Regions from separate parts of the Homo sapiens genome. Here all the other regions are reported to be linked to region 3. The links are microRNA targets in miRTarBase. Many come from high-throughput screens and were not tested one by one. Region 3 holds a microRNA gene; each other region holds the end of a gene's coding sequence. Distances are from middle to middle.
The links. Region 3 holds the annotated microRNA hsa-miR-4279 (CUCUCCUCCCGGCUUC, at 4,736-4,751, shown strand). A microRNA usually pairs through its seed, bases 2 to 8, with sites in the 3' UTR of a target mRNA and lowers its output. Matches are read on the target gene's strand: a 7mer-m8 pairs with bases 2 to 8, a 7mer-A1 pairs with bases 2 to 7 and ends in A, and an 8mer does both.

Region 1 (7,000 bases), 100 Mb from region 3:
GTTCATGTGTTGTTGTTTTTGATAATCCAAAGCGATCATGTCAGTTGGCCCTTTAATATTTCCAATGTGAAAGATTATTTAAATGCTTTTAAATCTGCAGCACATTGATAAGATGGTTTCCGTGAGCTATGATAAGATTGAAATTCCAGTTGCAATTCATAACTAATGAATTGAAATTTTATTTATTTTAATTTTTTTAAGTTCCCAGATTGGGGCTAGTTTAAGACTTAGTTATTTCTGCCTATAAATTTACTCTGTTGAATATTTAGCATAAATTTAATGTAGACATTTTTATTTATATACCTTGGGAGCTTTATTACCTAATATCTTTTTGTGGTAGCTGTTCTAAGAGTAAGAATTGGTTCGTCTAAAATAAGGACATATTCTTTCTACACCTGCTACCTGACCTGATATTTGAAATCTTAACTCCAATTTTATTATTGTGGAATTTACAGTTAGTATTAAGGATATTCTTCTACACATGAAAAAATCACTTAAATATGAGAAAATGGCATTCTACATGTATGTACTATGAAATGTGTCTGATTTGGTATGCATTATTTCAAAAACTGTGAATGTGTGTTAATAACACTACAGCAATCACACAGTGACTATAGCTTGCATTTAATGCATTACAAAAGAGGGAGGACAAACTTTCTAGAAGAAGCATTTCATGTTGAAGGGTTTCATAAAAGGACAATCCTGAACGTTACGGATTTTATTAAAACCATATGTTATTTTTTGTTGCTAATCATTTGACACTTAATCGAAACAGAATAAGTTACTGTGGAAAAAAGGATGATCCAACTCCTGAGGATTGCCGCCTGTGTGTCTTTAATTGATTATCTTTGATAGTTAGAGTTATTTTTCAGATTTTTCCCCCTCATACTGGATTGTGATGCTCTGATATGAGCATGCAATGACTGATACAGAAATAGGCTGGAGCTTCGGTGTGTGCTTTTGCTATACAGCTTACAGTTCTAATGCCTGATGTAGAGATGATGAATTTCTCCTTTTTAAACCTATCTTCTGTTTACTCCTTTTGCATTATGAAGGCCCTCTTCAATGATGTATGTTTCTGATGGAATCAGAAAATTTCACACTAGAAAAGTGTACCTAACTTGATTCAGTGTGAGCTCTTGGGACAGGGAGTGGAGCCAGGGGTAGAGCTTAAAGAAGCTGGCTCTGTAAGAGTTGTATATCAAAGTACCTTTTGCTACAAGGTGCATATAGAAGTCTAAGATAAGAAATGTACCCTCTATACTTTATTTTTCATGCCCCTATCATGTTTGGTGTGCCTTAAATCTTACCTTTAAATGAAGACTCTATGGATTGTTTACAAATGAAGTTTTACACTAGGACCAGATCGTCCATACATGATTGGTCTTCTACAATAATAATGTTCAATTCTTTCATTTTAAATCTTTCTTTAGGGTCATATAAAGATTAGTTCTTTCAGAAAAGCTATTGCTTTGGTACATGACTTAGTCTAACCAGTTGGGTAATGCTGCTTTGAAAAATAGTTTGTCCCTCTCCCCATTCCAAAAATGAATCCATTCAGTCAGAAAAAAAGATTATCCTACTATTTGTAGATGATTGCTAAGGCTTGAAATAGGAAAGGGGAAAGAAGGGATAGAAAAGTTTCAAGTCCAGTAGTGCAGTGAATCCTTTGTGTTTGAGACTTTTTTACACTTATTTCTGAAGTTAGTGAACTTTCATTGTCCCTGTGGCCTCATATTTATAGAGCTTCTTAACTGTTTTGTACCTCAGATTGTTTTTAGATGTCATTGAAGATTGAGATGTACAAATTATGTTGAATTTAACCTGTTTCTCTTGGAGAAATTGCCTCTGATATCTTTCTAACTTAATCTTAGTGTGTTCTAGGAACAGTTTTCCATAAGAGGACAACTTCTCAATGATCATGATAGTTATTTAGTAAGAAATAATGGTTGTTAATCAAATACATGTTATGTCTTGTCCTTCTCTGATTTTTCTGACTTGGATTCCTTAATTTGCAGTGATGTCTTAGAAATGGAAAAAGTATCCTCTGGGCTTTCAGACTTTCAGCAACAACAGCCAGTGGGATACCTCTGAGTTCTTGTGTTCTAGTCTCTTGTATGTCCTGAAAGGCAGCAGGAGCATTTTTGGGGTCACACTGATATTTTGTTAAAGCAGAGTTTCCTGCATGGTTTATGGTGCTGCTCTAATATTTTCTCTTTAAAACTGTGTCAATTTTTGGAGAATGAATTTTTCAACCTTTTCATTGTGGAGGATTTTTCCCACAAGGTAGTAATGGGCAATGGATCAAAATCCTATCATAAATGATTGAATTTTCAATGTCATAGTGTGTGGAAATACTACTCCCTTTCCTCCATGTCTATCTTCTTAGATGTTCTGTCTTTGTCATCATCTGCTCCAGCACATACTTTGGACTCCTTTACAGGTGACCTTCCCCCCTCCCTCCTCAATAGGTGTCCTCAGTGTTTTCTAAGCATTTAAAACTGAATTTGACAAGTGGCTAAAAACTTAGTCTGAGACTTGTACTTAGTATATGGTTAATTATAGAAACAACAACTATTTTAAACAGTTACTCTGTTGACTGCTCTTTATGACTACACTTGTATGCCAGGAGGCAGCAGCCTATACACCATTAGACTCTTTACAAGCAACCAACGAACCAATTGCAGTGGTTGCAGTTGTCACAGTAGTCTTGCCTGGGCCAGACTGGGCTGGGCTGTGGGAAGCATTCCCCTTCAGGGGAGTTTCCACAGCTCAGCCCAGGCTCCAGTCTGGCTAGAGAGCATCCAGCCCATTCCTTGCCTCAGTGCCACCTTTTTCTGGGCAAGTAGCCAAGAAGTGACTTTATATGCAGTGAGTACTTCAGATAAACTTACAGCTACAGCTGCCGAAGAGTGGAGAAGGTTGACCACCATTTATTTAATTCTCTAGTGTAAAAACAATTGAGAGCAGTGTGCGTGAGCCCACAGACACCTGTGTTTCTGGGAGCTCTGGCAGTGGCGGATTCATAGGCACTTGGGCTGCACTTTGAATGACACACTTGGCTTTATTAGATTCACTAGTTTTTAAAAAATTGTTGTTCGTTTCTTTTCATTAAAGGTTTAATCAGACAGATCAGACAGCATAATTTTGTATTTAATGACAGAAACGTTGGTACATTTCTTCATGAATGAGCTTGCATTCTGAAGCAAGAGCCTACAAAAGGCACTTGTTATAAATGAAAGTTCTGGCTCTAGAGGCCAGTACTCTGGAGTTTCAGAGCAGCCAGTGATTGTTCCAGTCAGTGATGCCTAGTTATATAGAGGAGGAGTACACTGTGCACTCTTCTAGGTGTAAGGGTATGCAACTTTGGATCTTAAAATTCTGTACACATACACACTTTATATATATGTATGTATGTATGAAAACATGAAATTAGTTTGTCAAATATGTGTGTGTTTAGTATTTTAGCTTAGTGCAACTATTTCCACATTATTTATTAAATTGATCTAAGACACTTTCTTGTTGACACCTTGAATATTAATGTTCAAGGGTGCAATGTGTATTCCTTTAGATTGTTAAAGCTTAATTACTATGATTTGTAGTAAATTAACTTTTAAAATGTATTTGAGCCCTTCTGTAGTGTCGTAGGGCTCTTACAGGGTGGGAAAGATTTTAATTTTCCAGTTGCTAATTGAACAGTATGGCCTCATTATATATTTTGATTTATAGGAGTTTGTGTCTGGGTCCCAGGAACATCTACTGGGGATGACTGTTAGGCAGCTTGTGATGATGTTTTTTAAAAAACCTAAGTAACTTGGGGAGACAGAGCATTTCAAACCCATATAGACACCTATCATACCTGTATATCCCCTAATACATGGAACATAAATTTCATTTCAGCTTTATGCATTAATGTATTGAAGAGGCAGGCTTTTTTTCCAGTAATAATACTGTACATCTAAGGTTGCTATTCAGTAAAACTAATAGAAGAGATAATTATTGAATACCTTGGAATATGTAGTGAGAAGAGGCCAAATTTTTCATGTTTGTGAGCATGTCTTTCAGATACTCGCTAATGGAGAAATTCACTTTAGACCTCTAGACCCCAAAACCAAGTTAGCAAGTGACAAAAAGTAAATTATTAATAGTCTGTAAAGTGGATGCTGGTCTTACAAAGCTCCTATTCACATGAACCCTATGGTTAATTAGAAAGAACTTGCTGTCTCCAGAAAAGGGAATGGAAATAATAACTATGTATCTTCTTTTCATGTAATTTGGTCACAGAATAAGGTATTCAAGTTAAGTCTAATCCAAGTCTTAGAGATCTTTAAGTATCCTAAAATAGCAGCCTAAGTAGTCATCATGTAAAGAAGTTGACTTTCAGGAATGTCAGCATTGACCTCTCCTTGCCACTGTTACTCAGCTAAACATAACTTGCCATTCTTAAAAATAAAAAAGCTCCCACCCAGAAACTCTAGTGATACTCAGTTTTGACCTCTTACTGCTTCCATGTGGGACTTCTTTTCAGCTTTTAACCATTGGAATTTTCTACCTGCTATGTTCCTCTCTGGAAAATATCAATTTGGAAATGCTGCCTTTCAAATCAATGCCATGATCATCCATATTGTTGAGTTTGTTGTTGGTGTTCCAGAAGTGTCCCCATTTTACAACTTTATGCACACACCTGGCAAATCATTAACATGAGCATTCAACAGTACTGGGATGGGTGGGGTGGGGGTAGGGGGCTCACCAACAGAACTGGCCAGTTGACATTGCCTGAAAAGGCACCACCTTTAAGGGCCAGTTGTGGGGTTGGTAAGCACAGTTATGAAAATTTCTATCTAGCCTCCGTTTTGAATGGTTTTAAGAAATTTTGTATATGGAGGATGGAAATGCTTATATATTTATTGAAAATCCTTTTATTTGAAATTAAAATTATTTGGTATATAATTGTTTGATATTTGGGGAGGGTTTTGGAGGGGAGATAATGTCACTGATAAATTAAAAGCCTGTTGATTTTGCAGAAAGGTACTGTTAGTGACTGATAAGGATGCCTTTGTTTTGTACATGAACCAAATCTTTGTTTTACATTTCTTTTATCCAAAATATTTAGGCATCTGACATTTTCAACCAGAATTTCAATTATATACTGTGATTTTTATTTGTTGCAATACATTACAATTTCAGAGGTACTTTGGGGCTCAAAAGCTAGGATTTCTAAGTCAGTATGTGCATTTCACACGATAAAGCTGTTAATGGTGAGCAAAGTATTATATACTAACTAGATTTTTCCACATCTGTATAGTATATTATATGTATTTTGTGGTATTGAGAGTATAGAAAGTTTAGAGTGTCAAACATGCGTTTAATGTGTATTTTTAAACAAATTTATGGCAATTAAAATATTTGGAGACAAGGGTATCACATTTCAATTTGTAAAGATCTTTTTAACTCTACTGTGTCATTAAGATGCTTTGTACAATGCCAAACCATAGTTGGAGAAACTAAGTTTAATAAATATCAAATAGATTTTCTGTATTAAAGTTACTGAACACTGTACTCTTTATATTTCTTCAACTCTGAGCCCTTTTCATGCAATTCCTGTTTTGTGTCTTAAGGTCCGTTACTACTCTTTAAAAGTCTGTTCCCACCAGCTGAGGTCTCATTTTCTGATTACAGAAATTCTGAACTTGCTGGCCATGGGTCCTTGTGCATATGTCAAAATTCACCTTGTCCCAACAGAAATCTTAAATCTCTTTTGGTGCTTTTGGTGGCTTGGGCTTTCATTGCTTTATTAAACTAGATTTTTCTCTCTGTTCTGCCTTATCTTCAGACAGCCATAGACAAACCTGGGTGCTTCATTAGATGGCAAGTGCTTGACCATCTTTTTTTTTTTTTTTTTTTTTTGAGACAGAGTCTCTCTATGTCACCCAGGCTGGGGTGCAGTGGCATGATCTTGGCTCACTGCAACCTCCACCTCCCAGGTTCAAGTGATTCTCCTGCCTCAGCCTCCCAAGCTTGACCACCTTTGACACCTCCCTGAAGAGTATGGAGTGAAGGGATCCAGGGCCACAGCTTAGGAACTTGCTGAAGTTGATTACGTAGCTATTGATTATGTAGCTCTCACTACACTTTCCAGATTGAGAAGTTAACACATTATTGGGCAATGCTGTTTTTTTCTTTAGTATACAAAATGAATCCTTCTTTCCCTCAAAAGCTTGAATTCCAGACTGCTAAAATTTCAATTTGAGACATTTAATAGTATCCATAGAAAAATAAACTCTAAATTGACAAGTTTAGTTATGCTTATCCATATATCAACATTCTAAGAAGAAATGGAGACCAATTTAAAGCGTACATCTGCCTTTAAATATTAAAAATACAAGATTGCTTCACTTGGGTGTCTCCAGCCAAAATGCAGTTAATCAATATTCCATAGAACGGAGCATTGTCGGAGGTGACTGCTGTCCTTTCTTTCCCTGGTATGTACATCATTCCTGGGCCACACTTAAGGAACAGCGTCTTTTTCTAGGGGAAAAGAAAGGGTAGTTTTTTAAGACTGGGTCTAGGAATGACCAGGGCCACCTATGCTGCATTTCCTTCCTCTTTGCTTGATCTGTCCAGTCTCAGGAAAGACTGAAGAATGGAAAGGCACCACTCTTTCATGGTACCCACATAGAGCTGTTCTTGGCTCCTAACTCCTAAGGGATTTTCCATGGAGCTCCCAGTCTCAGTCTAGAACTCCTCCATCCCAGCTTTATTCTTAGGTTCATGTGTCCCCTTGTCACTCCTCTGCCCAGCTTCCCAGGGCTCTCTGGCCCAACCCTGCTCCCAGGTTCAGGGAGTACCTGCATAGCCTTGTGATACACTCAGAATCATCCCGGCAGGAGGCTCCAATAGGCCTGAGGGAAACCCCTCTCCAAAATGGGGTCATTCTCCGTGGCCTTCTCTTTGCCGAACTCACTTCTGGTATTGGGGAGCCATCTATCTGTAAGGGCAA
Region 2 (8,192 bases), not on the chromosome of region 3:
ATTTAAAAGACTGCAGAAAAACCAGGAATGAGCCTCATGGATGCTTCATTTCTGAAATCCCATGCTTAACATTCATCACTGTCTCCCATACATGATTCGTCTTCACTCTAAACTGCCTCCTGTCTCTGTAGATAGTGCCATTAACATCCAAGTTACCCAGGCTTGAAAAATGGATGAAAAATGCACTCAACCCTTACTCCTATATTCAGTCACTGAATCTTGAGTCTTCCTTTGAAATGGCTTCAGCATCCACTCCTTCCTTATTACTCTGGCCATCATCTGAAACCAGTTCTCATAATTTTAAGTCTAGATTCCCATATCAGTCTCCTAGATAGCACAGCTAATTAACGTCACTTCAGTTTACGCAGAGAGCTTTTGGGGTAAGTCTAGGTCAGACTCCCAAGTCCACTACTCATTCACTGTGACCTTGGGAAACTTACCTAAACCTGTTTCATTTGTAAAATGGGGAATAACACCACTTTCCTCTGAGAAGCCATTGCAAGAATGAGACATTCTTGGAAAATTCTTTGCACAATGCCTGTTACTTTTTTTTTTTTTTTTTTTTTTTTTTTTTGGTCTCACTCTGTCACCCAGGCTGGAGTACAGGGTCATGATCCTGAGTCACTGCAACCTCCGCCTCTCAGGTTCAAGCAATTCTCATCCCTCAGCCTCCCAAGTAGCTGGGATTACAGACATGAGCCATCATGCCCTAATTTTTTGTATTTTTAGTAGAGATGGGGTTTTACCAAGTTGGCCAGGCTGGTCTCAAACTCCTGGCCTCAAGTGATTTGCCTGCCTTGGCTTCCCAAAGTGCTGGGATTACAGGCATGAGCCACCATGCCCAGCTTAAGAATTCTTGATTTTTGGAACCTTGATTATAAGCTGCCTGATGTCTGGAACCAAAACTTCTGTAACACTCTATTCCACGTGTACTTACAAAACACTCTAAACATTTATTAAACAGTTTGATGAAGGCCAAAATAAGAGGCATATGCTATTCTACAACACGGTAACACTCTTCGTCACTTAAAATAATTAAGCTTTGAGAACACAAAATAAAGCTTTTTAAAAAAGCCATTCAGAAATAGGAAGCAGTTTGGGAAATGATTGTGCTACGCCAATCAAGAAAATGTTGTACCTCAAACATCTGAAGGTAGCAATCTGTTTTTTTCTTTCCCTGCAGCTACCCTTATTGGAAACATAAGGGAATATAAAGTGAAAACAGGCAATGTTTGCCTGTTTTTATAGCTTTTAGCCTTACCACTTTTCAGTTTGGGGATGGAATGCCTTTGGCTCAGTAGATTCTACTGGCTTTGGGGAGCTCAGAAAGGCCATAATGGGGCCTACAGGAAGAGGAAAAAGAGAGCTGACCTCTTAAGGGCAGGCCTTAGGTACAAGAGGCTTTTTTTAAAAAGTGACAAAACTTTTGAACTAAAGATGGAAAACGTAGTCTGACAAAGAATATTTGTGCAACTTTACAGTGCCAGTAAAATCATGGGAAAAGCTTGGATAGCCATACGTAGGTGTTTCTGAAACATGTCAGATTTTATATATATATATATATATATATATATATTTTTTTTTTTTTTTTTTTTTTTTTTTAGAGAGTCTTGCTTTGTTACCCAGGCTGGAGTGCAGTGGCACAATCTCGGATCACTGCAAATCCTCCGCCTCCTGGGTTCAAGCGATTCTCCTGCCTCGGTCTCCCAAGTAGCTGGGACTACAGGCGCCTGCCATCACACCCACCTAATTTATGTTTTTGCTAGAGATGGGGTTTCACCATGTTCCATGTTAGCCAGGCTGGTCTCCAACTCCTGACTTCAGATTATCTGCCCGCCTTGGCCTCCCAAAGTGCTGGGATTACAGGCGTGAGCCTCCATACCCGGCCCATGTCAGATATATTTAAAACTAAGAAAGCTTGGGAAAATCTCTGCCAATGATCTCCATATCAGTTAACCCCGTTCCATAGAGTCAGAAAGGCAGAGGGTCTTAGTGCAGATGCCTGCATAAAGATAAAACGTTGCATGTTCTTGGAAAATATGGCTAGACCACCCTTCCCATACCATCTAGCTGCAGTATAAATTAACATACCCATGTGGAAAAGTGGTATGAATCAAGAACTACAAAAGTGTTCATATACCCTTGACTAGAAATTCCACCTCCAGTATTTTATCCTAAGAAAATAATTTATACACAAAGACATTCATTGTGGCATTATGAGATATAATCTAAACTGTTCAAAATAAGTAAAGGTTATATGAAACATGGCACATCCATAACAATGGAGTACCATAAAATTAATAATAGTTGACACAGTTTTAATGACATGGAATAATGCCTGTAGGTTGCGGGGAAAAACCCCAAGATATAAATTACACTGAGAATGATGAAACTAAGTAAAAATATGCAGAAGTAGCAAAGACAATGGCAAGGAAGATGCAAAAATATCAAGTGATTTTTTCTGGTGACAGAATCATAGGCAATTAATTGTTATACTTTTCTGTATTGTCTAAATTTTCCACAATAAGCATGTACTACTGACATAAACAGAAAAAACAAACATTATTCAACCAGGCAAGCATTAAAGAATGGACATTGGGTACAGCTTTATTTATTTCTTTTAGGAATTGCAGGTTCCTAACAAAGTAGGGGTGAGGGGGGTGTTACAAACCAGTCACTAGGCAGGAACATTAGACTCCAAAAGCAGAGAAATGCTTAATTTTCTTCTACCTGTTTCACCACATTCATGTAGAACTGTAGTAAAAAAGATGGTGAATCAGGCTGAATCAATCTAAATAACAACTTAAGGCTCCCAAATCACATGAACCTAGGACCACTAAATCCAATGTCAGACGTGTTTAAATGGTGCACTGCTCTACATTTTTCTATTATGCAAAGAGCTAGAAAATAATGGTAGTGTCATTATGACATTCCATGAAAATGAAGAAAATCTTTCAGGAAAAATTAAGAAAATAAAAATGTTTACTAAAGAAAGAATGGTCCGGCTAAGTGCTTTTTTTTTTTTTTTTTTTTTTAAACCAACTGAAGGCCAGAGAAATGAAAGGCATACCCGTGAATTAAATTAATGCTTTAAAAAAAATTGACTTTACTTAAAATACAAACAAACGTCAACTAATGAATACTTTATTGGCAGAAAAAAAAGACAACTTGGCTGGAAATGCTGAGTGTCTTGGACTGGTCTGAAGGAAGAACATCTGAAAGGTCTGAATGTCAAAGTCAGAACAGTCTCTGGTCAATCCTACTTTGCTTAAAATCCAACATTTTACCTTTCTTCAAATTCCTCAAGACTAAGGAAAACTTGGTTTTATACCAAGAATTATGAATCAACCTACACTTGCTATCCCTTACATCACATTTTCATTCTAGCTTTTCTGAAACACATTACCAGATAAATGCCATATAACCTAAATTCACCTCAATGCTTTCATTTTGCCTTTACAATTACCTTAGGACAGATGCCAAGTTTTTATAACTTCAGGCCAGAAAATCCTCAAGTGGCTCACCTAATTGTCAGAAAGTGAGTGAGTGACAACAGACCTCAGGCACGAAACTATTTTCAGCACCAATTACACTGTGGGGGGTTACCAGAACAAGAAAAGGCCTTCATAGTTCTAAGTGAAGAAAGATAAAAACATTTTATTTTGGCCAGGCGCGGTGGCTCACGCCTGTAAATCCCAGCACTTTGGGAGGCCAAGGCAGGCGGATCACCTGAGGTCGGGAGTTCGAGACCAGCCTGACCAAAATGGAGAAACCCCGTATCTACTAAAAATACAAAATTAGCTGGGCGTGGTGATACATGCCTGTAATCCCAGCTACTCGGGAGGCTGAGGCAGGAGAATCGCTTGAACCCTGTAGGTGGAGGTTGCGGTGAGCCAAGATCGCACCATTGCACTCCATCCCGGGCAACAAGAGCAAGACTCAGCCTCAAAAAAAAAAAAAAAAAAATTGATTTTAGGAGGCTGACAATTACAGTTCATTTCCTAAGATATTCCAGACAATCACTGGTTGGCTGACAGAATCTAGGTGACAGCTAAGATCACCCCTCTGAAACTCCCTTATATTTGGTTAAGCAGAAATCTGGGCTAGCAAAATAAACTACTAGAAAGTCAGGGTCTGGATAAGAAACAGTGACCACATTAAAGGCTGACGGATTAATAATCATGATGTTGCCATAAGGCCAAAGTCATAAAGTACTAATGCTCAAGACAGATAAACAACGTAAGCCCCAATTTCAAGATGATAAACTTCAAAGTGTATTTTTTAAAATGCAAGTTGCCTGTATGAAATAAATTAAAAATTTATATGTAATTTCAGTGTAAAACACCAAAACCGAACATTAAAACTGTTCACAGAAAATAGAAAAAAAAACAAAAAAACAAATCACAATTATAAAAGCACAGAGATATCAGTTATAAGAACCAAGTAAATAAACTAATTTCTATTAATATTTTCATTTACTTTATAAAACTTTGTTGATTAAATTGGGGGAGTCTCTGACAATCTAAAGGGTAACAAAATAACAAATATACATCATTTCTTTATAAGTCATACCACACAAACCAAGTTAAGTTTTTTCTATCTGATTACAGAGTCAATAAATATTGCATCTGTATTTAGAGCAGCAACATAAAACTTTATTAGAAAGAAATACTATATCTGGACCAAAAAACTGCAACATGGTTTGGAAATCTAATGACTAAGAAGGTAAAACTGGCAACTATGTGCAACTACTGCTCGTAGATTTGGGTTTGTTTCCCCCCCAACATCTTTAAAATAAGCAGCCCCCACAAAGGGATAATCCATTGAATAAGGAGACAATGTAGCCAAAGAAGGGATTTGTGGAAAACCATATGAATTTAAATCAACATAAAAAGAACACACAAAGGCCATGGAAACTTGAGAAGGTGAAAGAAAAAAAAAAAAAACCCCAAGCAAGGACAAGTCAGCTCCTTGGAGCTGCACCAACTCTTAAGTAGGATGTCCCTATTCTAACGGAAATTGATGAGTCCACACCTGGGCACTTCAGTTTGAGAAATCAATTGGTTGGACTGGCCATTAAAAAAAGGACTTTGTTTTTAAGGTAGATAAAGCTTAGAGAGAGAAAGCTAAACAGAAAAGTACCAAATCCTTGTGAACTCAAAAATGATTTAGGAAGTCAAATGAAGCAAACTAAAAAACTGGATGAAAATGTTTCTCTAAGAGTAAAACCCAGTTTTCTCTGTGATTTAAAATCAAACAAACACACTATAGAAGAGAAATTTTCAAAGTGCACCCAATAAAACCTCAGAGGTTCCCTGGAGTGTTTGGGGTAGCATGGATTGAGACAGGAAGTGGGTTCAGGCCCATCTCCCCCAACCCTTCTTCACTTTAATTCAAACATTTCTAATTCTCTTTTGTCGTTTGTAGTTTCAGGTAAGATATCATTTTAAAAAAATGAAAAAAAAAAAAAATCTAATGCTGTCCCTTTCCCTAAGTTTGAAAATCACTGCTGAGACTGAAATTACATTGGTGAGAAATATGATCATCATAAATCTAAAACACATTTTCTATGTAGTGCTACCAAAATACAAAGTTTCATCAAATATTTCACTACTATTCTGTAAAATAAATGAGAAAATTAAGTTGTTGGGAAGAAATTAAATTTTGTTATTACCACCTCCCAAAATCTGCTCTTCTGCTGGCTCCAAGATATCAATATTTGATAGTGTGAACAAATTTCTAACAAACATTCCAGTCACACCGTACCCCAAAGACATTTCATTCAATGGCTGCATAGTTTCTTTTTTGAGAAGGCAAGCCTCAAATTTATAGAAAACTCTAGAATGAAAAATGTACAATTACTAAAAACATAATAACACACTTTATGTCAGGGCAGAATCTGCATAGTGCTTTTAAACATAATCACCAATGAAGAGTAGCCAAATCCCAGAACTTCACACAGCACTCATTAGCAAACAACGTCAAAGTGTAAATGATAAGCAGGAAAAAAACCAAGTAACACGAATGCCATTTTTCTTTGATGCAATCACGAAGAAAAGTGGAAATGCAGGACGAAAAGTGGAATCCAAGCTTTGGCCACGTACTGAAACTTCATTACTTCAATGAAACAGAGCAAATCTCCATGGAAAGGACTCATTCAGCAAACATTAAGTTCTTTCCATATATTTTTTTTCCTTCACGTAAGGTTAAACAGAAGTTGCTGTCATTCTAGAATCAGTGATTACAATTTTTTTTTTAATTAGAAAAAAGGTTACTTGAATATTTACATAATTTTATTGCTCTTTATTTTAACAAAAACTTTTTTCACTGATTTGTAGACTCCATCCATTAACGTATGAAAGTGAAATCCATCTCTCAGGAAGATACAGTTATGGTTGAATGTATCTGATGCTGAGAGTACAGCATAATTAAGAAAAATCCTTGCATGTCATTTGGTTCTTGTTGCAGTCTTCTGTGTTCACCCCTCAGAAAGCAAAAGAATCCATCTGACTTTCAATAAATACCAAATTATTAAAAAAAAAAAAAAAAGAACGTTTCCACAGACTAGAGATCCAAGAAAAAGCAGTTCTGATGAATGATTCCCAGAATCAAGTGAGTCCTCCTTTAGTCCAATGAGATGATGTCAGGAATGTTACTTCCACTGCTGGTTATGACCCCTGTCTCACTCCTGCTGCTGGATGAACTAACATGAGTACTGCTTTCATGGGAGCTGGTGGTGGTGACAGACGTACTGCTTGCTGTTAAGGGTGAGGTGAGACTATCCAAAAACATAGGAGGACAGTACTGCTTGAAACAAACAATGATGCCAATGAGGAAGAGGCTACTTGATTTTAAATAAAGAGACTAGAAATTATTAGATATGCACAAGCAATAGTCACATATTTAAATCCCAGTGGGATTTAAAAATTGCTCAAAACTTCACATCTTTGGGTGGAAGATAGCATGAATTTAGCTATTTTACATTATTTAGAGAATGCAGCATATATTCTTGATTCTCTCTAAACTTGTGGAACTTGTTTGCTGACCACATACAAAGGTAAAAGTACAATGTCAACAATAACTGAAGTCATTTAATACTAAATATTGGCCCTAATCTCAAAAAGAATTTGCTCCCTAACTGTATTTAGTTGGGTGTCAATTTTGAAAGAATTGTTGATCTTACACCAGCATTTTTGCTTAATAACATTTTTAAAAGTATTTGTTAGCCTTTCCCGGTATGGATTGAGTATCAAACAGATCCTTTATGAATGTTAAGGCTGACCAGCTGAATGATGGCATTGGACTCCTTTGTACATAAACGTAAAATACTTGTGTCATCAGAATGACAACATTCATTCTAAAACACAGACTACACGGTAGCTAGCTATCACAGGATCCTCAGGACAGAAAATTATCTCAGGTAATCACCAAGTTTTGCAATAAATGTTAAAGAAGATCTAACCTAATCTTCTCGTGATGCCTGCTTAACACCCCTTTCCTAGTGCTCATATTTCACAAGTCCCCTTACAATCCTGGTTACTGATCCCATTACTGATCCCAAACAAGTACAAACCTGAATGTACTACTCTAATATTAACAGAGGAGTGAAGAGAGACAAGCCAAAAGCATTATATCAGTATAGAATATTTTTATGTGAGAAACGACTGCACTGACTTTAGTAAAACAAGAGGTCTAGTGATATCCTGCAAGAGATGGTTTAAGTTTGTCATTAGTTCAACTGTATGAAAGATCAGTAAGGATATCTGATTCATATTCCCCATTCTAAAGATTATGCAGCTTATCATTAGAGACACTGGATTATGGAACAGGAATTTAAGTCAAGTTGTTTAGACTACATGATTTCCAAGGCCGGTGAATAAAACAGGAACAACAGTCCCAGGTTTAAGTTGCCAGCCAGAGGGACAGCAACAAGTAAAATTCAGACTGCTCTTCAAAAGAACAAGTTATTTAATGCTTTGGATAGATAACTGTTTTGGTTCATCAATAAAATGAATGCCACATACAGAGTCAAGGGACATTAGTTACAGGGAGAACAGTTCTTAAAGAGCTTCCAAGGAGCTCTAAAGATGGTTGAATTGTCCAGTATTAAAACTCTTTTCTAAAATCAAATCAATTTCTAACTTTCCACTAAAACTGGGGGGTAAATCTAGAACAAAGCCCAGAAACTTACA
Region 3 (8,192 bases):
ATTTATCTGCCCTTCACTGGGAGTCATCTGCACTGATGTTCTGCCCCTGCGGTCTCAGGTGTCTCACTGAAATAGAGACTTTTTACCAAACGGATTCTCAAGGGCCACTTCGTGCCTTCCTCAGATTCACCTTCCTCTGCCAATTTCCAACTTGGTTTCCATCTTCTAATTTGGGAAGTGTTGAAATGAGAAAGGCAAAGAGATGGTCTGGGTGTATGTGGCTTTAGGCTACCTGACAACCCCCAAACCTCAAAATTACCAAAAATACAGACTATAGGGTGATCCTTCTCTTCTACCAATGAGTCACTTTTGGTCTCTTTAAGGACCAAGTTCCTCTGCTGCATGTAAAATATAGTTGGGTTGATTCTACAGGAAGAGATCCTGAAAGAAAGGGAAGGCAGATCTAGAGTCCCAAGTCAACAGCTGTCATGGCCTGACTCGTGGTACAGGGACCTCATGGTGCAGGGCTGACAATGTGCCCTGCTGAGGCCATCTGTGGAGTCACAGTGTGGCTATCCAGTGAGGCACCCATGTGCTTAACGAAGGCAATCTGGGCAGATGGGCCTACAAGGGACAGCAAAGACAACAGAAGAAGTCACAAAGGGGTATGCCCTGCTGCAAGGAACAGTTGCCATGTCCATGGAGGGAGAATGTTGCTATCTTGTTCCCCCGTCACCAAGGAAAGGCAGGGCTCCAGTCGGGATCTCCATGGCATGAGGGACCTTGTGCTCCACCCCCAGTGCCACCGTAGGTAATGTGAAGAACTCATGTTTGGAAGTGAGAGACTATATCACCTACAAAAGCTCTTAAGAGGGGCACAGCTTGTATGTAAACACAAAGCCACAGAAAGGAATCCTCTGCTGGCCACTGAGCCACGAAATTATTGATTCCCTTTTATAGACATGGTCACAAGTTTTCTTGAATTCAGAATCATAACTTTTATTTTGTCTGGCTGTTCCTCTCCTCTAGGTTTATACACTTTGTGCATATATGCAGACGTCTGGCTTGGTCTTTGATTCTATTCACCATAAGGAAAAAAATGATAAATAGATGTCTGATTCCAGCCTTGTTTCCATAGCCAAAGGGAGATGACAGATGCTTCAGCTTTGGGCTGGACACTCAGCCCTCACAACATTGTATAGATGAGTTGGCTTGTTAAGGGCTGCTCATGGCTTGCACGCCAAAGTGACTAGACTTTGGTGGTTTCTGTCTCTTTAGGAGCCAGCTTGGTTGCATGGCTCAGAAGCAAAAAGGTCCCACGTGCTACCATGTGGTACCAGGTAGTTTTAGAATTCTGACACACACTGCCTACCCATGCAGAGGAAGAGGTTACTCACCCTCCAGCCTGAGCCTTCTGGGAACCCAAAGCCAACCCTTCACCCCACAGCCCGCCTCACTGCATCTGGCCACACAGCACCACTCCCTCTTGGGCAAGCCTAATACATTTTCTCACGTGCTGATTCCTAACTGCCCCTTGGCCTGGGGAGTCCAGACCTCAGTCTGGTTGGTTTCCAGTTGAGTTTCAGCAGTTACGCAAATCAGGTTTCTGACTGTGTCTGAAATTCCAGTGCATACAGGAACAGCAGGTTGCTTAATCTCTAAATTCAGAGCCAACCCCTTTTCTAAATACGAAAGTGCTGCCCAGCTCCCATGGTAGATTAAAGGACCCACCCCTCCCAGCTCTGACAACCTGGCTCATCAAGCGTACAGGCGCCATCTTGTTTTCCAGGCCCTACCTCTGGTGGGGCGCCATACTTTTCATATTTTCATCCTTCCTCACTTGTTTTGTCAAACTGGGCCCCACCCCCATTCTTCTCTACTGACAACATCCAATTTCCAAATATAGGAGGAAAGATGGTTGAAATGTCCCGGTAGTAAACAACAATCTCCTGTGAGATGCTTTCCTGTGTTTCTGCAATGGACAAAAAGCTACTTACACAAGATGGCTCCATACCGAGGCCTGAAGTTTCGACACAAGTTAAACATGAACAAGGTCACCAGATTTTCCTCTTCCTTTATTAGAAATGACATAACAATGAAATACTGTGCTGGGTAGAGGAGCACTGCATGTTCAGAGGTAAGGTTGGAGGGCCTACAGTAAGCTTTCTTAGAGGGCAATAAAGAAACATTGTTCTAAATATGAGAAAACATGGTATTCAGCTGTCTTTTTTTTATAATTGCAAAAAACATCTTTTTTTTTTCCAAAGTGGCAACACCAAATGCTCTCAGATTGTGGAAGTCTAGCCAGCATTCAGTATGCAAAAGAGAAAGAAGTGAATGACTTGTGTGAATTACCAGAGTTTTGGTCCCCAATGGGTTCTTCCAGTAGGGCACACAGTCAATACATGGCTGGACTCATAGGTGTCTTTTCCAGCAGGTTCATAAACCAGGAAAGAGGGTGAAAATCCAACCACAGGCACATAGTTCATCTAATATTTCTTTACTATTGTTGGGACCCTGCAGAAAAGCTTCAACTTCCTAACTCCTGAATCTACCCATTTGGAGGCGATGGCACCAATACAGACTAAGAAACTAAAATCAGTTTCCCAAACAAGAGCCCATTCAAATTGCTGAGGGCTTAACTTGCTGCATCAACCCACTGATCACATTATTCACCAATGATATTAAAAAATCAACAGGTCAAGGTGGAGTGCTGGGAGCAGTGGCTCACACCTGTAATCCTAGCACTTTGGGAGGCCGAGGTGGGCAGATCACTTGAGGTCAAAAGTTTGACACCAATCTGGCCAACAGAGTGAAACTCTGTCTCTAAATGGGGGCGGAAATCAACAGACCAACCAGCAAACCAGCAAATGTTTTTTTCTAAAGATCGGATAGGCTTTGTGGGTCACTATCTCTGTCCTATATTCTTCTTTGTTTCTTCAACTCTTCAAAACATAAAACACATTCTTAGCTCCCAGGCCATACAAAAACAGGCTAGGGCAGTCTGGATTTGCCTAAGGGCCATAGCTTGCTGAACACCGCTTCCAGCAGGAACCCTGGGAAGGAACCTGTCCCCAACACAGCTTCTAAGTCACTGCAGATAGCACCTGGGACAGATCAGTCTGAAGGATGGGAGACAAAGGGGACACACACAACAGGTGAACAGTAGGCAAGAAAGGACAAGAGTTGGGGTGGCGACGGTAGGAACATGGGGTGAAAAAGTTTTCTAAAAGACCACAGGAGGTGCCGTTCCTCCTCCCATAGAAGGCTAGCTGTGTAATGCTGAGAAATCACACGGAAAGAGAGACTAGCAATGATGTGTGGGCTTGCTTGACTAAACACAGCCATCCCCCAGCCCTCCAGGACTAAAATGCAAAGCCACAAAACGTGGCCACCACGGCATGAGGATGACCACAGCATGAGGATGCCAGCCAGGCAGTAAGCAGTAACCCAAGCAGCTCCCAATTTTGCCTTTTCAGACACACCCCTGTGGCTACGGGGCATTCTCCAAACCTCAACGCAAACAGTTCCAGGATTCAGGCTGGGCTATTCTACCGAAACAAAATTCTCCACCTACCTCTGACGTTCTTCTCAGGCTGACCACACGCACCATTTCTATCCAACCTCCTCCATGTTAGCCCAATCCCCCAACACCCTGGCCACTTCATTAGTGAGGGAAAACATGTCAGATCATCCCAGTGCCCAGGAGAAGCAAGGCCTAGAAATGATTCAGAACCTGGGGCTGGAGATGATCTTTATTCTGTTCTACTTCTCTTATCACAAGCCCCAAACCTTGACAACGGAAGGAACACCCTGAGACTCGGCTACAATCATGGGAATCAAAAATCAGTTTTAAAATTATCCTTGCATGTGGCTGCCACCCATGGTCCTCCCCATTTATTTTCTACTTCTGAGTGTGAAACGTCACTGTGACAGTTTCCAACCCTCTGCACTCCCCCCACTCCATGACAAATATTCAGGATTCACACTTCACTTTCACACTGCTTTCCAATCCCTTGACTTAGAAGCCGAGCAGAGGCAGCCTGCCTTAATGGAGAAAACATTAGTGCATTCGGGCTTCACTCTGGATCCCAGTCAATTTCTGGATATTTCACAGCTGTTATACATCCACCTCCTTTCTTACAAAAGCCAGCAAAAATTAGTGAGCACCTCGTTGGCTCTGAAATATGAAAATGGAGCCACAGTCAAGCCTGAAAATCGGTTTCTGGTTGACTCCCTTCAAAGTATTTGTTCTAAAACACAGTGTCTGCAGTTCATTTATCATCTGCCAATTTTTAAATGAGTTTAAATTAAAAAAGCTTCAATGCTGCATGCTTTTTTTCTTTTTTTTTTTTTAAAGCAACTCTCAGAATAAAACTGTCATTTGGTCATCACACTAGTAACTGAGAGAACTCTTGCTTGGGCAGATATCAGCACAATTCAAGCTGAGTCTTTTATGTTATTATTACCTGCTCATCTCTCATATAATTAAAAAATAATAAACCCTTGGAAGACCTGTAAGTTGTGTTCAGAGAGAAAATGTGATTCTCTTCACCACTCAGGTCTCCCGTCCTACCTGCTTTATGAGCTGGTCAGGTGAGCGTGCTCTGCTGTGCTTCAGCAGCCTCTGGAATGGGACAGACTCCAAAGTTGGTTGTGCTTCACTTCCCTTCTCCATTCAGGTCTTTAAAGTCCTGGGTTATTAACTATCAACAAAAATACAAGCTGCGCCATGCGTGCTCCAACTTCCTGCCAGCTCCCCATGCTCTGTGGAGCTGAGGAGCAGATTCTCTCTCTCTCCTCCCGGCTTCACCTCCTGAGCTCCAGAGCCCCACCCACCCACAGCACTCAGATCATTTTTCATTTATGAATGCATCCAGCCACGCTGTGTTTGTAAGAGAAGGAGCCAATCCTTGCCCTGCCAGTGTATTGGAACCAGGCTGCTATAAACGGTTCTAATTTTCCAGGAGTATGGGGGGAAATCATATCCCAGCAGACATCATGCATGGCTTCCTCCTGCAGGTATCTGCAGATCAGCTCTTCCATCACCAAAGGACGCACACTTGGCCACGGACCACAGCTGCTTCATTCTACAGACTGCCAGGGAGGAGGACTGAAGATTTCAGGCAGGAGAAAACCAAAATACTATCAAAATGTGTACTTCACATAACTAAAAATGTGAAGCTAGGATGATCAGTGAAGAAACTTTCCACTCAGTGACCTGATATTTCACAATACATTTAATCTGTCTTGCACTTATTAAAGGGCCAGATTTTTTTTTAAATTGCATCCAAATGCAAACAAAAATCAAGGGGTTAAATTATTTTATAAAGAAGTCTGTTGGGAAATAAAAGCCATTTGTCTTGATGACACCAAATTTACAACTTTTCTACTCCGACTAAGCTTCCAACTTCCATTGTAGACAAGTACTAGCAAAACCAGAAATTATCAGTCAGCCCTTGAGTTGCTGAAAAAATCCTCAACTTTTAAACACAATATGATTTTTCTAAGGTTTTATCAGGAAATAGAATGTTAAAAAATAGGCTTCCCTAAACCAACACACATATATAGTAGTTTCTATTATGGGTAAAATTTGCCTTGTTTTACAGCTGAAGCCAAAGGGGTCTTTCATGATCCAACAGCCAGAGACAAAGATTCCAAAAACCTTTGGTGCAGGTATAAAAATGTACATGTGCAACTTAAATGGGAATGACATTTTATTATTCCAATACTCACAAGGTCCTTTGTTAGCTATACTTGTAAGGAACAAAATAGGAGCAAACATCCTCTGTTTACTTCTTGCAGCCATTCTATTTTCTTTCTTTTTTTTTTTTTGAGACAGGGTCTGGCTCTGTTGCCCAGGTGGGAGTGCAGTGGAGTAATCTCGGCCCACTGCAACCTCCATCTTCCGGGTTCAAGAGATTCTCCTGCCTCAACCTCCTGGAGTAGCTGGGATTACAGGCGCCCGCCACCATGCCCAGATATTTTTTGTATTTTTAGTAGAGATGGGGTTTCACCATGTTGGTCAAGCTGGTCTCAAACTCCTGGTCTCAAGTGATCTGCCCATCTCGGCCTCCCAAAGTTCTGGGATTACAGGTGTGAGCCACCACTGCTGGCCAGATTTTTGGTGTTTTTTAGTATATTCATTTATTTTAGAGTTTTATCCAGTATAAATTTTTCCCCTAGGAGCCTTGTATTGACATAACCTAGTTCCAGTCACAGTGAGACATTTTTGAAATTGCTTCTAAATTTTCCATGTATTAAAAAACTGGTGGTCTAGTATCCGGACTTAAGTCTTTTTTTTTTTTTTTTTTTAATTAGATGGTTCAAATGTCTCCTAAACAGAAAATGCTATACATTTTCTCATGTGCTCCAAATGGATTCTAGCCATCCCAATACCCTAACACATTCTTGAAAACAAAAACAGGATCCGCCTTTTACTGATGAGATAAAGAAGACAGAAAGTCACTAGTATATATGATGTTTCCCTGGTGCGGCAGAGAAAGAACTAATGGGAGGATTAGTTCCTAGTCTCCAAACACCAGCAGGGAGCCCCAGGCAAGTCCACATTTTTTGTGTGCATTCAAGAGGCCTGAAAGTTGATCGTGTGGGTAACTTCCTGGAACTCACCTTCCTAGTTCAGGAAAGCGTGGACTCCTGCTCACAGTTCAAGCTAAGGAGAAGGAAGTCTGCTCTTTAGCTTTTTTTTCTTTTAAAAGAAGTGAGGGAAAAAGATTAAAATTGCCTTGGCCTGTGACCAAACTGCAGTCCTAACAAGAGGTAAAATTTGCCTATAAAATATTCCTGACAGTATTAGTTGGTGACATCTGCCAAAAATCTATGGTAAAACCAGTTATCCTGCCTCTCTTTGTCCCATTCTCTCAACGAAGGGTGGATAATATATAACATATAGTTTTGCTTTAAGGGGAATTACTGCTACATTTACTCACAAAACGAGCCACGTAGCATACACCAGAATTCAGCAAGTACACAAGCCACCTAACCGACCCAAGTTTCTGAATTGCATTATCCATGACAGGCATCTGGGGCTCTGCCTTCTTCGTGTCCACCTTGGTTCCTTGGTCACTGGGCTTAGGAGACCACTGTGCACTCACTGTCCATCACCCGGGAGGGACCCTGAAGATCACTGAGTTCTACTTTCTCATTGCGTTCGTGTGGAAACAGAGGCCCACAGGAACATGAGGAAGCTTTCCAACATCACAGGGCACATTAGTGGAAGTACTGAGGTTACAACGTAAATCTTCCTGATTCAAACTCTAAGATGGTGCCAAGGGGACAAGGTGTGGATCTTTGTAGGCAGGGGCTCAGTAATGGCTGTCCAGCGGGTCACAAAGCCCAGCCTAGGGACACACCTAAGATTCTCCCAGAAGCTAAAACAGAAAGGTAACAAAGAGGGCAATCCCAGAAATCCCCAGCAGGAGTCGATCATACAGCAAAAGCCAAGGGACACCCCAGGTATAAACCCAAGAACCGAAAGCAGACACACGAATGGATATTCACACCCTCGATATTTGTAGCAGCACTGTCCACTCAATAACCAAAAGGTGGAAGCCATCTAAGCATCCACTGATGGATGAATGGATACAGAAAATGTGATACATATGTACAATGGAATACTATTCAGCCGTAAAAAGGAAGGAAATTCTGACACATGCTACTACTTGGATGAGTTTTGAAAAGAAACTATGCTGGCCGGGCGCAGTGGCTCATGGCCTGTAATCCTAGCACTTTGGGAGACCGAGGTGGGTGGATCACTTGAGGTCAGGAGTTCGAGACCAGCCTGGCCAACATGGTGAAACCCCGTCTCTACTAAAAATACAAAAATTGGCCAGGCGTGGTGGCACACATCTGTAATCCCAGCTACTCGGGAGGATGAGGCATGAGAATCACTTGAACCCTGGAGGCAGAGGTTGCAGTGAGCCGAGATTGCACCATAGCACTCCAGCCTGGGCAACAAGAGCGAAACTCTGTCTTAAAAACAAGAAAAAAAAAAAAAGGACACTATGCTAAGTGAAATAAGCCAGTTATAAAAGGACAAACCCTATATGATTTTAATCGTATGAGGCACTCAGAATAGTAAAATTCACAGAGACAGAAAGTAGAATGGTGGTTGCCAGGGGCTGGGGAGAGGAGGAATGGGAAGTTACTGCTTAATGGATCCAGAGTTTCAGTTTTGCAAGAGGAAAAGCCTTCTGGAGATGGATAGTGGTGATGGTTACACAACAGTGTGA
Region 4 (8,192 bases), not on the chromosome of region 3:
TATGGTGGTACACACCTGTGGTCCCAGCTGCTCAAGAGGCTGAGGCAGGAAGATTGCTTGAGCCCTGGAGGTTGAGGCTACAGTTAGCCATGATTGTACCGCTGCAGTCCAGCCTAGGCAATAGTGCAAGACTCTGTCTCAAAAGAAAAGTAGAAATTTATTTCTCAATGAAAAAATGTGTTTCTATTATGTAACTTTTAGATTTAATTTTATTTGGTTGGCTGGAATTACAAATATAATCAGGAGTTGACACAAAGTAATGAGGGCCTAAAATTTGAGAGTTGTCATAGGAATAGAAGGAAGGGAGAAGGGTAAGACACAAAGCAGAGATTGAATAAATAGGATTTAGCATCTTACTGGATGTGAGAGTTTAGGGCAAGAAAGTCATTAAAAGTTGTATAATGAAGGTTTTAATGGAGAGAAACATGACAGACATGTTGATTTTGAGACAATGAGAAAACCACCTCTTTTTTAAAATCTTCAGACACATACCTGTGGCCACTCATTTCCTAACTGCCAACCCTACTTCACTCAATATTATGACTTGTACTTTTAGGGGACGTATAAGAATCTTGAAAAAAGAAGAAAGGATTCAAACTAGGGTTTGCTAACTCCAGCCTTTCCCACTGCACCAAGAAACTACCATGTCACATCATTATATATGATATGTATATGGTATTTTGTTTAGAATTTTTTTTTAGATAGGGTCTTGCTTTGCTGCCCAGGCTGGACTCAAACTCCTGGGCTCAAGTGATCCTCCTGCCTTAGCCTCCTGAGTTGCTGGGATTACAGGCACCAGCTGCTGCACCCAGCTTATATGGTATTTTTATCCAAGAAATCTAGTCATCTTACAAATAACCTTATTCCTAAACATCCCAAAGTGCTTTGGATGTTTACAGTTTTGGTTATAAAATTCATTTGTGGCACGATGCAACATTAACCCCAAGGACAAGGAATATCTACCAAATGATAACTTTCTCCATATGCACAGGGCAAATATGTCATGTGTAATATTAACCAATACATTTTTGCAGGTATTAAAGGTTTGATACACTCAGCATGGACAAGCCATACCAATAGAAAAAAACCACTTTCTATGCTTTAATTCAAAAGGTAATTAGACTATCTTACTTAGTTATCTGTGTGTCATTAGGACCTGAATCATACTGAAAATTAGTGGTTAGTTTATAGTTTCTGAGAATGTATGATCATTACATTGAAATACAATCTCTCTCATGTATACATTTTTCTATCATCATGTGTGAAGCCAGTGACTATGAAATTTTTCATGATCATTTCTTATTTCCTTTTAGATTTTATGTTTACAATAAAAAGAAACGTCTTGTCAACACACCTTACGTGGATAACTCCTATAAATGGGCTGGTGGTGGATTTCTGTCTACAGTGGGTGACCTTCTGAAATTTGGGAATGCAATGCTTTATGGTTACCAAGTTGGGCTGTTTAAGAACTCAAATGAAAATCTTTTACCTGGATACCTCAAACCAGAAACAATGGTTATGATGTGGACCCCAGTCCCTAACACAGAGATGTCTTGGGATAAAGAGGGTAAATATGCAATGGCGTGGGGTGTTGTGGAAAGGAAACAAACGTATGGTTCGTGTAGAAAGCAACGGCATTATGCTTCACATACTGGAGGGGCAGTGGGTGCCAGTAGTGTCCTGCTGGTCCTTCCTGAAGAACTGGATACAGAGACTATAAATAACAAGGTTCCCCCAAGAGGAATCATTGTTTCTATCATATGTAACATGCAATCTGTTGGCCTCAATAGCACCGCTTTGAAGATTGCCCTTGAATTTGATAAAGACAGATCAGACTGATAACCTTAACACCATAGGTGCAAAATGAGTTGTTCTGAGGTTTTTTTGAAACATTAAAGTTCCAAAACATGACATTTTTAAGAATAAATTTGAAATAGAGTATAACTGAATGCAGAGAATTATGTACCTCTAATTGCTTAATTTTGTAATGGTCTTTTATTGTAGAATTGGTTCTTTATACTCAGGGAAGTAATTATATTGTTTTTACTTTTTGAAAAAAGTGTTAACTCTTGAAATAAAATATTCTGATAAAATATGTACTTTCTGCATGTGTAATACAGAGAAAATCTCATTCAACAGGAGCCTCCAAATATCCGAGGTTTTTTTTCTTTTCTTTTTTTTTTTTTTTTTTTTTTGAAATGGACTCTTGCTGTGTTACCCAGCCTGGAGTGCAGTGGTGTGATCTTGGCTCACCACAACCTCTGCTTCCTGAGTTCAAGCGATTCTCCTGCCTCAGCCTCCCAAGTAGCTGGGATTACAGGCACCCACCACCATGCCCAGCCACTTTTTGAATTTTTAATAGAGACAGCATTTCGCCATGTTGGCCAGGCTGGTCTCGAACTCTTGATCTCAGGTGATCCATCCGCCTCAGCCTGCCAAAGTGCTGGGGATTACAGGCGTGAGACACTGTGCCCAGCCCAAATATCCTTTTAATATGAGAGCAGAAACAAAAGCATGAGAAATGGTATATTAGTTATCCACTACAGCTTAAAAGAAACGTTCAGAGAAGGAATCGGGAAATCAGGAGCAATATAGTCACGTGGGTCTGGCGCGGTCTCTAATGAGGTTGCAGACAAGGTGTTATGATCATCTGAAGAATTCTCCAGGGCTGGAGGAAATGCTTCCACATGGCTTACTTGCATGACTGCTGGCAAGAGTCAGTTCTCTGGCTGGTGGGTGGCAAGGGGACTCAGTTTGTCACCACATGGACCTCTCTGTAGGGCTGCTTGAGTATCTTATGGTAGTTGGCTTCCCGCAGAGTAAGTGATGAGACAGAGAGTGCCAGGCAGAAGTCACTCTTTTATAAACTAGCCTCAAGTCACATACCATCACATTTGCCAAATTCCATGGGTTACATGGGGCCTAATAAATGTTGAAGAGATTATATACATTGTGAATATTAGGAGGCAGGAATCACTGGGTGTCAACTTGGAAGTTGGGTACCACAGTCTGACCTCTGGTCCCCAATGATTTATGTCCTTCCCAATGCAAAATACTCTTACCTCCTTTCAAATCCTCCAGAAGTTTCACCTTAATATAGCATCAGCTCAAAGCCCAGTATCTTATCATCTAAATCAGGTCAGGTGCAAGTGTGAATGAGGGCTCCTTGGGATGAGTTCCTTAGGTACAGCAACTCAAGTAGTTTCTCTTAAGACCTGTGAACTGTAGTTATTTGCTCCCCATATGTGTAACATACCGTAGCACAGCAGATATAGGATAATTGCTAGATACCGTCCTCTTCAAAAAGTAGGGAAGTGGAAGACATACAGGAGACTGGCAATTCTGAAATTCAGTCAGACAGAGGTTGGCAACTCTGATTAGTATTCAAGGCTTCAGAATAATTCTTAGTTCTTGGCTATGTTCTCTGGGCTCTTAGTTCTACCTTACGAGTTATACTTTTTCTTTTTTTTAAGAGACAGCTGTTCACCATATTTCCCAGGCTGGTCTTCAACTACTGGGCTCAAGTGATCCACCCACCTCAGCCTCCCAAAGTGCTGGGATTATAGGCATGAGCCACCGCACCCAGCCCCTGAGTTATACTTTTTTTAATTGTTCTTTTTTACTTTTTTTTTTTTTTTTTTGAGACAGGGTTTCCCTCTGTCACCCAGGCTGGAGTACAGTGGCACAATCTCGGCTCACTGCAGCCTTAGCCTCCTGGGTTCAAGCAATTCTCCCACCTCAGCCTCTCGAGTAGCTGGGATTACAGGTGCGTGCCACCACTCCCGACTAATTTTTGTATTTTTAGTAGAGACAGCGTTTCACCATGTTGGCCAGGCTGGTCTCGAACTCCTGACCTCAGGTGATCCGCCCCCCTCGGCCTCCCAAAGTGCTGGGATTACAGGCGTGAGCCACTAAGCCTGGCCGCTTCCCCATACCTTTTTTTCATGAAAGGTAGCGTATCTTTCTAGCTGAGTGGTTTTCTCAGTGTGCTTTCCACTTGTAGAAGTTTGGAGACCCAAAGGCCTTTTTATACTCTCTTTCCTTTCCATCTAAGTTAACAGTGGTTCTGCCAATATAATATTTTATTTCTCTAATTTTTGAATTTTTTTTAGCAACCCTATTAACTGACAATATAATATTTTAAAATGTTAAGAGTATCCTGTGAATTTTATTGGGGTTTATGCCAGTAGACAAAAGCCACCCCAAAGTCCCTTCAGAATATCCCCTCTCTAACTTGGGGCTTGTCTCTGCCAAGATAATGGGAAGAACTAATTACGCTAATAATCTAATGAACTCTATTGTTTAAATAGTTCTCTGAAGCACCATGTTGATTCATTTTGAAGTCTTGAGAAAGGATTGTATAGTCATGCCCTCAATATCATCTTTAGACTATGTTTTCCTGGAAGTGCCCTCAATTATTATCTTTGCCTTGAAGCCATTTCTTAATTTTGGCATCATTTGCAATCTGAAGAGTCTGGGAATTTTTTAAACCATCAATTATTAATTCTTTACCAATAGTTCTTCCATTAGCTTATCTTTCTCTTGCATGTTAGTATAAGCAACAAGAATTAAGGAAGCACATTCAACACTGTGTATGGCTCTCTGCTCCTTCTCTTGCCCTGTGACATCCGGGCTCCCCCTTCTCTTTCCGCCATGGTTGTAAGCTTCCTGAGGCCCTCACCAGAAGCACATGCCAGCACCATGCTTCCTGTCCAGCCTGCAGAACCGTGAGCCAAATAAACCTCTTTTTATAAATTACCCAGCCTCAAAACAAAAAAACAAAAAACAACAACAAAAAAAAAAAAACACTGCATATGGAAATCCCATCAGCTAGTCACCCAATTCATTAGGCACATTTTCTGTTTTCTGAGTTACTCCTGGCGACAGTGTTGCTAAATTTTCTGTCAGTACTAAACAAGAATCCCTTCCTCTAATTGCCAATAAGATTTCTCTTACTTTCCTTAAGACTACACCTGCAGCCTCTTCAAAGGCCATACTTCTCAACAATTTCTTCAAGGCTCTTCAGGTTTTCATTAACACTTTCCTTAAAGTCCTTCCAACTTCCATCCGCTGCTCTGTTCCAAATACATACACACATACACACACACACGTAATTTAGATATAATTCACAGTCCATATGCCATAAAATTCTTTAACGTGTACAATTCAGTGGTTTTTAGTATAGTCACGAGATTATGTACCCATTACCACTATCCAATTCATTTTCACCCCAAGAAGAAACCTCATACCCATTAGCATTTGCTCCCCATTCCTCTGTCCTTCCAGCCCCTGGTAACCAGCAATCTACTTTCTATCTCTTTGGATTTGCCTGTTACGGATGTTTCATATAAATGGAATCACACCATATCTGGCCTTCTGTGTCTTGAGCTTTTTCCTGTAGTATAATGTGTATTAGTTATCTATTACTGCATAACAAATTACCCCAAAGCTTATTGTCTCACAGTTTGTGTTTCAGAAATTTGGGGGCAGCTTTGCTGGGTGTTTCTAGCTCAGGGTCTCATGAGTTTGTAGACAAGATGTCAGCAGGGGCTTCAGGCATCTGAGGGAAGGCTTGACTGGGGCTGGATAATCTGATTCCAAAATGATTCACCCACGTGGCCATGGGCAAGAGGTCTTTGTGGCTTGCTGGCTTTGGGCAAGAGTTTTCAGTTTCTCACCACATGGCCCTCTCCATAGGTCTGCTTGTCTGTGCTATGGCTTCCCTTTAGAGCAGGCGATTGAAGAAACAGGGAAACACCTCAATGTCTTTTATAAATCAGCCTTGGAAGCCATATGCCATCACTTATGCCAAATTCTGTTGGTTACAGAAACCAACCCTGATTTGGTGTGGGAGAGGACTGTAGAAAGGAGTGGATACCAGAAGGTTGGGATCATTGGGAGCCATTTTGGAGGCTGCAGTGTTAACGTATTGGGGAATTTTGTTCTAACAGCCACAGATCATGTGTACTAGAGATTACCAGTGTGCCACTGAACTCAGGAAAATTCAAAAAGAAATCAAAGTTTTTATACACCCTAATAAAGGAAGGGCTTTTCTATAATTCTGAGCCCTAAATCTGTTTCTTCCCTTAACACTTTATACAAGTAAATAGATGGATATCTCTGAGTTGGTTGAAGTAGAAAGAGAGCAGCTCTCTAAAACAGATCCATTTCATCTCCTTATTTCTTTCTGACTTCTGATCTCTAGGTCCTGTATTCATGTTTGTCAAGTTTTCAATCCGTGCCCTTAGATAAACATAAAAATGTCATGCCTTTCTTTAATGTTATTTTAACATTAAATGTTTAATGTTTCTTTAATGTTAGTGTTTTATGTTATTTGGAATTTATTTATTTTTTAGAAACAGAATCTTGCTCTGGCACCCAGGCTAGAGTGCAGTGACATGATCGTAACTCACTGTAACCTGGGCTCAAGTGATCCGCCCACCTTGGCCTTCCAAAGTGCTGGGATTACAGGCATGAACCACCATGCCTGGGCCCCCATTTGGAATTTTCTTTTATTTTTATTTATTTATTTATTTAGAGATAGGGTCTCACTCTGTCACCCAGGCTGGAATGCAGTGGTACAATCATGGTTCACTGCAGCCTTGACCTTCCAGCCTCAGGTGATCTTCCCACCTCAGCTTCCTGAGTAGCTAGAAATGCAGGTGCACTCCACTATGCCTGGATAATTTTTTGTAGAGTAGGGGTTTCACAATATTGTCCAGGCTGATCTTGAACTCCTGGACTCAAGCAATCCTCCTGCCTCAGCCTCTCAAAGTGCTGGGATTACAGGCATGAGCTACCGTGCCCGACCACCAATTCTTTGATGGCCACGATTTCCTCTCATTCCATTGTGCATGCAACTTTGCAATGTGATTTTGCTGCTTTTTCCATCCAAAGGTGGAGCTCTTTCTCCACTCTCTTGAATCTGGTCTTGCTTTATGATTTGCTTTTTGACCCACTGAATGTGGTGGAAATAATGTTGCACAAGTCCCACTGCATAGGCTTTAAGTGGCTTTCAAGCTTTTGTCTGCCACCTTCTAAGAACACTACCCCAAGATTGCCATGTAAAGAAGCCAGACTAGCTTACTGAAGGATGGGGGACCATGTGGAGGGGAACAGAGATGCCCCAGCTGACAGCTAGCACCAGCTGCCAGACCTATGATTTGAGCCTCCAGGTGAAGGTGGCTGTGTAAGTGAACCTAGATGAGACCAACAGAGTAAGCAGCCAACTCATATACTCATGAGAAATAGTAATAAGTCAACATTTTAAGCTATTAGATTTGGGGGTGACTTGTTTTGTAGCAAAAGTTAACATATCTATGCTCCAGTGTGGTGGTAAGGTGGGTAAATCACTTTAGGGAAAAAATGGAACATTAAAGTACTTGATGTTGAATAGACATGACTGCTTTCCACTTAAAAAAAAATACCACACAAACTATTTTTTTTTTTTTAAGACACAGTTTCGCTCTTGTTGCCCAAGCTGGAGTACAATGGCGCGTTCTCGGCTCACTGCAACCTCCACCTCCCAGGTTCAAGTGATTCTCCTGCTTCAGCCTCCTGAGTAGCTGGAACTACCGGCACATGCCACGCCCGGCTAATTTTCGTATTTTTAGTACAGACGGGGTTTCATCGTATTGGTCAGGCTGGTCTCAAACTCCTGACCTCAGTTGATCCACCCGCCTTGACCTCCCAAAATGCTGAGATTACAGACGTGAGCCATCGCGCCTGGCCCACACAAACTATTAACAGAGCACTTACTGTGGGGAAGGCATTTTGCTAAGCTCTTTGTATATGCTATCTCATTATACCTTCAACATAACTCTATTAAGTAGAAATATTATTATTTTTTCACAAGGTCACAAACCATTAACTAGCACTTGTTTCAAACCCACACATATCTGACTCTAAAGCCTGTTTTAACCATTATCGTGACTTCCCATAAAAAGCATCTCTAGGCCAACGCAGTAGCTCACACCTGTATTCCCAACGCTCTGGAAGGCTGAGATGGGCGGACCACTTGAGCCCAGAAGTTGAGACCAGCCTGGGCAACATGGTGAAACCCTGTCTCTACAAAAAATACAAAAATAAACCAGGTATGGTGGCATGGGCCTGTAGTCCCAGCTACTTGGGAGAATGAGGCGGGAGGATCACTTGAGCCCAGGAGGCAGAGGTTGCAGTGAGGCGAGATCGCA

Region 1: the mRNA of LEAP2 is a reported target of hsa-miR-4279. Seed matches in the 3' UTR shown: 7mer-A1 at 5,995-6,001.
Region 2: miRTarBase lists PIAS2 as a target of hsa-miR-4279. Seed matches in the 3' UTR shown: 7mer-A1 at 1,689-1,695.
Region 4: the mRNA of LACTB is a reported target of hsa-miR-4279. The part of its 3' UTR that is shown has no 7-base or 8-base seed match.

The regions. Positions count from the first base shown.
Region 1 is chr5:132,873,938-132,880,937 of GRCh38, reverse strand. LEAP2 (liver enriched antimicrobial peptide 2) reads right to left here. Exons shown (of 3, transcript NM_052971.3): 2 at 6,849-6,988; 3 at 5,892-6,528. The coding sequence ends at 6,492. It overlaps AFF4 (ALF transcription elongation factor 4), which reads left to right. Exons shown (of 21, transcript NM_014423.4): 21 at 1-5,543. Among named protein-coding and RNA genes, the nearest start is that of LEAP2, 3.8 kb to the right of the region's middle.
Region 2 is chr18:46,805,809-46,814,000 of GRCh38, forward strand. It overlaps PIAS2 (protein inhibitor of activated STAT 2), which reads right to left. Exons shown (of 14, transcript NM_004671.5): 14 at 1-6,804. The coding sequence ends at 6,625. Among named protein-coding and RNA genes, the nearest start is that of ST8SIA5-DT, 52 kb to the left of the region's middle.
Region 3 is chr5:31,932,671-31,940,862 of GRCh38, reverse strand. It overlaps MIR4279 (microRNA 4279), which reads left to right and starts at 4,704; the gene lies at 4,704-4,761. The region is part of intron 2 of PDZD2 (PDZ domain containing 2); the gene reads right to left.
Region 4 is chr15:63,139,967-63,148,158 of GRCh38, forward strand. LACTB (lactamase beta) reads left to right here. Exons shown (of 6, transcript NM_032857.5): 6 at 1,314-2,095. The coding sequence ends at 1,839. Among named protein-coding and RNA genes, the nearest start is that of RPS27L, 13 kb to the right of the region's middle.